Linked DNA regions of Homo sapiens. The protein of the gene in region 1 interacts with the protein of each later gene in a biochemical or structural test. Each region holds a gene or a part of one and is shown on either strand. Other genes may lie near its edges.

The links. The genes of interacting proteins can lie anywhere in the genome.
Region 2: of the proteins of CTNND1 (region 1) and FYN, one has a biochemical effect on the other in vitro, tested with the Homo sapiens proteins (one study listed by BioGRID).

The regions. Positions count from the first base shown.
Region 1 is NC_000011.10:57,764,802-57,768,301, reverse strand, and holds part of CTNND1 (catenin delta-1), read right to left. Parts: intron 1-3,500. UniProt on the Homo sapiens protein: Key regulator of cell-cell adhesion that associates with and regulates the cell adhesion properties of both C-, E- and N-cadherins, being critical for their surface stability.
Region 2 is NC_000006.12:111,702,453-111,705,952, forward strand, and holds part of FYN (tyrosine-protein kinase Fyn), read right to left. Parts: intron 1,651-3,500; coding exon 1,547-1,650; intron 583-1,546; coding exon 433-582; intron 1-432. UniProt on the Homo sapiens protein: Non-receptor tyrosine-protein kinase that plays a role in many biological processes including regulation of cell growth and survival, cell adhesion, integrin-mediated signaling, cytoskeletal remodeling, cell motility, immune response and axon guidance.

The DNA.
Region 1 (3,500 bases):
CTACCGTTGTTTTGAACCTCACCCACACAACTCTCCAATATTACCTATTACTAATTTTTTCCCATTAAAAAAATTTAAAAGTTAGCTTTACCCACTCAGGAAGCCCATATATTCTGTAATGCAAGCACCTACATCTACCACAGATTCTCAGGTTTTAAGAGACCTTCGGACGGGCATGGTGGCTCACGCCTGTAATCCCAGCACTTTGGAAGGCCGAGGTGGGTGGATCATTTGAGGTCAGGAGTTCGAGACCAGCCTGGCCAATATGGTGAAACCCCCTCCTCTACTAAAAATACAAAAATCAGCCGGGCGTGGTGGCGGGCACCTGTAGTCCCAGCTACTCGGGAGGCTGAGGCAGGAGAATTGCTTGAACCCGGGAGGCAGAGGTTGCAGCAAGCAAAGATTGCACTACTACACTCTAGCCTGGGAGACAGAGCAAGACTCCGTCTCAAAAAAAAAAAAAAAGACCTTCAAGGGCATTAGTTCAACAAACGAAATTTGAGTTCTTTGAAGCATCCATTCTAATAGCAAACACAAGACATTACTAGGAGCTCTGCATTACTCTATAAAGTTCACATACATTAAATAACTTAAGTGTCACAACAATCTATAAGATGGTTAATATTATCCCCATTTTACAGACAAGGAGGCCAAGGCAGAGAGAGATTAAGCAATTTGCCCTAGGTTACATGTTTCCTCCGTGGCAGTCTAGCTCCCCATCCATACTCTTAATCATTATGTTATGCTGCCTTGCCTCACCATATTATGGAAGTCTCAGATTGGAAATTCCCTTTTTGGTTAGCATATTTACCAAAAAATATAGAATAAAGCATTTGTGGCAACATGTTAACAAATGATACCTAGGCAAATGAAGAGTATACCAGTTACTGTGCTAGAGCAACTTTCCTGCAAGTTTGAAATAAAAAGTTGAGAAGTGCTTTTGTCATCACATCACATCAACCAACCTGGGACATGTTTTGTGAAAGTCATGACCAAATTACCTACTGCTGACCAGCAAGGAAGGCTTTAAGATAAAATTCTGGCCGGGCGCAGTGGCTCAAGACTGTAATCTGGGAGGCCAAGGCAGGCGGATCATGAAGTCAGGAGTTTGAGACCAACCTGGCAAAAATGGTAAAACCCATCCCTACTAAATATACAAAAAATTAGCAGGGCGTGGTGGCGCGCACCTGTAGTCCCAGCTACTTGGGAGGCTGAGGCAGGAGAATCGCTTGAAACCGGGAGGCGGAGGTTGCAGTGAGCTGAGATCGTGCCACTGCACTCCAGCCTGGACAACAGAGCAAGACTCCATCTCAAAAAAAAAAAAAAAGATAAGAAAATTCTTTGCCTCTTTATAATTCCCCCACTATATGCCTGATCTAAATTGTCCACACCACACCAATCAAACTGAAGGGCTCACTGGAGAAGAAGTGGCCCTAAAAACAGGGAACACGATCCCTGAATAAAGTGGTAAATTCAGGCCCCATTCTCAATGCTTAATATTTAATAATAACATGCAATTCCAAGTAGAATTAGGGAAAAAAATTACTTCCGAAAAATACATTAAACAATTAAATACAAATCAATCCATACCCTAATTTCCCCCTCATTAGTTCTAACCAGAACAGTTGTTCTTGCCTTCTTACAATCTCCCTGCCAGGCTACATCAATGCTCTATTGGAAACCTTGGAGGCAGCTGCATAATTTAGGCAGAGCAATCCCTACTTCAGCTTTGTGTGTCATTTAACCCTTCTTTGAGGGAAGAGAACATGAAAGAATATTTGTACTTATTCACATCCTTATTACCTACAGTTCACTCCTGTAGGCAAGTTCCTTGTTAATACCTTTTAAATTACCCAAGAAAACTAATTTCGGTTCTTAAACTCATAAGCTTCCCAATACATGAACAAAATCTAAAGTTTTGTGGCTAAAACAGTGATTTAAAAAATACACTGATATCCAAACATACTTTCTTTGAAACACTGATGTTCAAAACTATCATCCCAAGCTCTTAACGTTTTTATTAACAAGCACAGAAACCATTCACCTCCAACCAGGGCTGAAAGCAGTACTTTTCTGCTGATGTCTTAATATACTCTCCCCTAGAAAATGGCAACATTTAAGGTTTTCAGTGTTGAAGTTCATTATGAAATGAACGGACTAGGATACTTATTATTTATTTATTTATTATTATTATTTTTTGAGATAGGATCTGGCTCTGCAAGCCCAGTCTGGAGGGCAGTGGCATGATCTCGGCTTGCTGCAACCAGTAGCTAGGACTACGGGTACATGCCACCACGCCCAGCTAATTTTTGTATTTTTTGTAAAGAGGAGTCTTCACCATGTTGCCCAGCGATCCACCCACCTGGACCTCCCAAACTGCCGGGATCACAGGCGTGAGCCACCGCACCAGGCCAGATCCTTACTTTTTATACTATTCTTTGTACCACTTGCCAAGAAAGGAACAGGATTAAAGAAAAGCTAAAATTTTAAATCCTCCATTATCTCTAGAAACTTTGCTTAAAAATATAAGGGAGGGCCAGGTGTGGTGGGGCACACCTATAATCCCAGCACTTTAGGAGGCCGAGGTAGGAGGATGGCTTGAGCCCAGGTGTTTGAGACCAGCCTGGACTACATAGAGAGACCCCATCTCCACAAAAATACACAAAAATTAGCCAAGCATAGTGGTGTGCACCCATAGTCCTAGCTACTCAGAAGACTGAGGTGGGAGCACCACTTGAGCCCAGGAGTTTGAGGCTGCAGTGAGCCATGATTTCACCACTGCACTCCAGCCTGGATGACAAGAGCAAGACCCTGTCTCAAAAAAAAAAAAAAAAAAAAAAATTAAGGGAGGAGACGCATAAAAGGTTAAAACTACAGACTACAGTAAAAGTTGCAAAAGTACATTGCAATTTGATTAATCTATGTTGTTTTGCTTCCTTTCAAGCCTTCCCCACAAATCAGTCCCTCACTGATTCTCATCAAATGCCTTATTTAACCAAGGCTTACTGAGCACCTCAGTATGTACCAAACACTAAGACAGGTGCTAAAAAGATACAGAGATAAGACAGTACCTACACCCAAGCTGCTCATAGTCTAGAGGGAAAGACAAGAATATCTGAACTACCTCCTACAAGCCTGTCCCTGCAAGTTGATGATATCCTATCATTCCAAACCACATACCTAACAAATTCTCTGGAAGAAGAAATTTTACTGATAAACAACGTGTGACACAATTCCAGGAAGTTTAAGAAATTAGGACAGCAATGGTGGGCATATGGATATGGAAAGATTCTCGTTCTAAAGATTAAAATAATATCCATTCTAGCACATCCAGCTCCCCATGGGCTCTATGGAAAATAGATCTTTTGCATACATTATCCCAACAAGGGTAGTGGGGAGTTGGAGGGAGTTGGAAATTTAAGTGAGTACTGCCCCTGTGCCAAGATGAAACACTCCTGCCTCTAGCAAGGGCTCGTTTTAGTTCGAGCTGTTGTTTCCAT
Region 2 (3,500 bases), on another chromosome or scaffold:
AAATGTACGTGCAGCTATTCCTGCAACAGTGCTGAGGGTAAAGTGATAGTGGAAACACAATATTCCTTGTAGGAGTCCCCATGTAAGCGCCCTCCGAGAGACTGCTTTCTCACATGCAACGCGGGGAATGGGAAAAGACAACTTGAAGATGAAAAAACAAACAACTTTTAAAATTTAACCTATTGCTTTCTACTTGGGAAACAAAAATATTATAGAATCTTCGGACAAACATGTGGAACTAATAATAACAACAGTAGAACAATAGCAATAGAACCTATACAGCCAAGCCCTACCATTAAGGGCTGGCAAAGAAAACATACTCTATAAGTGATTTTGTACATATTAGTTTTACCCCTTTCCACTTTCCTGCTCTGGGCCTATCCACTCCCTCCAGCATCCAAATGGTTAGTAGGTAGTTAGAATTAAGGTTACCTGAGTAATGTTGTACAAGCTGCTGAAGTGTTTCAAACTGGGCCCGGGTGGTAATGTAGTATCCACCATTGTCAAGTTTGCGAATTTTATAATGTTTGACATGGTCTCCTTTCATATCATCCCAATCACGGATAGAAAGTGAATAGGCACCTGGTAAACGTGGAAAGCATTAGCAGCTCCAATCATTTAGAGTATCAGCTTGCTTTTTAGGCCTCATTTTCTTGACTCTGATTAATAATTACCAAGGATGCACACACACATGTACACACACACAGCATCTCCACTCAGTAACAGGAAGAAGATGCTTCTTGATGTTCTGCAAATGTCAGAATATATTAGCAATAAAATGATTCTGCCCTTGAGACTGAAAGCTTCCTGGACATTTTTCTTAAACACACTGTTCGGTACCCCTTGTTGCATAATACAGCGTAGACTCAATTCCAACACTCCTTTCCCCCAAGGGTAAAGAAGGACCACGATGAATGGCTGAGCTTGCTTCCCTTGTCTTCTCTACCCAGGGGCATACTGGGAGGTAGCAGCAGCATGTGCAAAAGAAATCTAAGGCTTGTTTCTCTAGAAGTGAGCTTCAAGCTTCTGCTTTACAACACTTTTTACAGGAATGGATAATCTGGCAAATTAAGCTAGAGGCCACTACTCTTTTCTTCCTTGACCTGTCTCCTCTTGTGGGTTGTAAGGAGTTGTTAAATAATGAAAAGTCCAACAGTTGGAGGAAGAGAAGTGAAGTCCTCAGTTATTTAAAAAACAAAAGGAAAGCAAAAACAACCTGTATGACTGGCACCTGAGGAACTAAGATTTCAGAAAATCAAAATTCTAAAGGACTTCTGAAAATTCTACGATCTTGTGTGCCTGGAGCAGTGTAGCTGCATCCAGCCCGTTTCAGGAGGAAGGTCTTGATTTGGGGCCTCTGTAGTTCTTTTGGTGCTGTCTGCAGTTTTAGAGCCTGGAGGGAAGACTGAAAACAGGACTCCACTCACAAGGCAGGGAGGGTATGTGCCATTTTAAAATCCTTGTACATTAGAGATAAGCCTTTCATCCCCTCTGACTAATCCACAGATTTGAATGACAAGCCAACTTCTTCAACTCGTTATCTTACCTTTGGTGGTTTCACTCTCGCGGATAAGAAAGGTACCTCTTGGGTTTCCAAAGGACAATAGCTGTCGCTCAGCATCTTTTCGGCCAAGTTTTCCAAAGTACCACCTTTAAATTAGATCAAGGAAAGAAAATATTTTGAAATAGTCATTTACAAAATGCAACAGCATAGGCTTTTTTTTTGCCCATGAATTCCCCTCTCCTCCAATTTAGTCCTTAACCTTTCCCTGGATGTATTTTTTTTCTAGCTTAATTCAGTTCCTTTTCAATCTATCCTGGATTCTATCCCTAATTCATCTCTTTCACTCTTTAAAAAAAATCAGATTTGAGTTGTGGGTTGTTTTCCTCCCCTCTAGACATGACCAGAACTGGTTTGTGTTAAAACTGCCACCTGTATGCAAAAAACCAGAAATCTAAGACCTTGATTTGAAATGGTTACTGCAGGAGACCCTTTCCACACTTATCTAAAAGACTCTAGTCTGGGCATGGTGGCTCATACCTGTAATCCCAGCACTTTGGGAGGCCGAGGTGGGCAGATCACCTGAGGTCAGGAGTTTGAGATCAGCCTGGCCAACATGGTGAAACCCCAGCTCTACTAAAAATACAAAAATTAGCTTGGTGTGGTGGTGGGCACCTGTAATCCCAGGTACTCGGGAGGCTGAGGCAGGAGAATCACTTGAACCTGGGAGGCCCAGGCTGCAGTGAGCTGAGATTGTGCCATAGTATTCCAGCCTGGGTGACAGAGCAAAGCCGTGTCTCAAAACAAAACAAAACAAAAAAAACAAACGCCAGGCATGGTGGCTCATGCCTGTAATCCTAGCACTTTGGGAGGCCAAGGTGGGTGGATCATGAAGTCAGGAGATGGAGACAATGCTGGCTATCATGGTGAAACCCCATCTCCACTAAAAATACAAAAAATTAGCTGGGTGTGGTGGCATGCACCTGTAATCCCAGCTACTCAGGAGGCTGAGGCAGGAGAATTGCTTGAATCTGGAAGGTGGAGGTTGCAGTGAGCCAGGATTGCGCCACTGCACTCCAGCCTGGGCAACAGAGCGAGACTCTGTCTCATAACAAAAAATAAACAAAAAAACAAAACTCTTGAATCTCTTGATATCTAAGCATTATTGTAACTGCTGGGAAATAACAAAACACAGTCTTAATGTATATGAAGATAATCAAGCATTAAAAAAAGTCAGATTAGATAGATATGATATGAATAAAGGAATAGTATTTTCAATAACTTCCTCCCTATAAGAATTCTGAGAAAAACGCCCATGAGTACTTACTTGTATTTTGTTTTCCTCCCCTAGGTGTGTGAGGACTTGGATAAGTAAAGGCATTTATTTACCAAGCACCTGGATTGTGATCTGTGTTCATCATCTTCTTCTTCTTTTTTTTTTTTTTTTCTTGAGACAGGGTCTCACTCTGTCACCCAGGCTGGAGTGCAGTGGCATAATCATAGCTCACTGCAGCCTTGACCTCTCCAGGCTCAAGCAATCTTCCTACCTCAGCCTCCTGGGACTAAAGGTGCACATCACCACACCTGCTAACTAAAAAAATTTTTTTTGTAGAGGCTAAGAGTGGTGGCTCATGATTGTAATTCCAGCACTTTGGGAGGCTGAGGCAGGCAGATCACCTGAGGTCTGGAGTTCGAGGCCACCCTGGCCAACATGGTGAAATCCCAACTCTACTGAAAATACAAAAATTAGCTGGGCATGGTGGCATGTGCCTGTAATCTCAGCTATTCGGGAGGCTGGGGCACGAGAATTGCTTGAACCAGGGATGTGGAGGTTGCAGTGAGCTGAGACAGGGCCACTGCACTCTAGCCTGGGGACAGAGTGAGACTGTCTCCCTATGTTGCCCAGCATGGTCTCAAACTCCTGGGCTCAAGTGATCCTCTCGCCCTGGCCTCCCAAGTGCTGGGATTACAGGAGGGAGCCATCACGGTGGACCCTGTA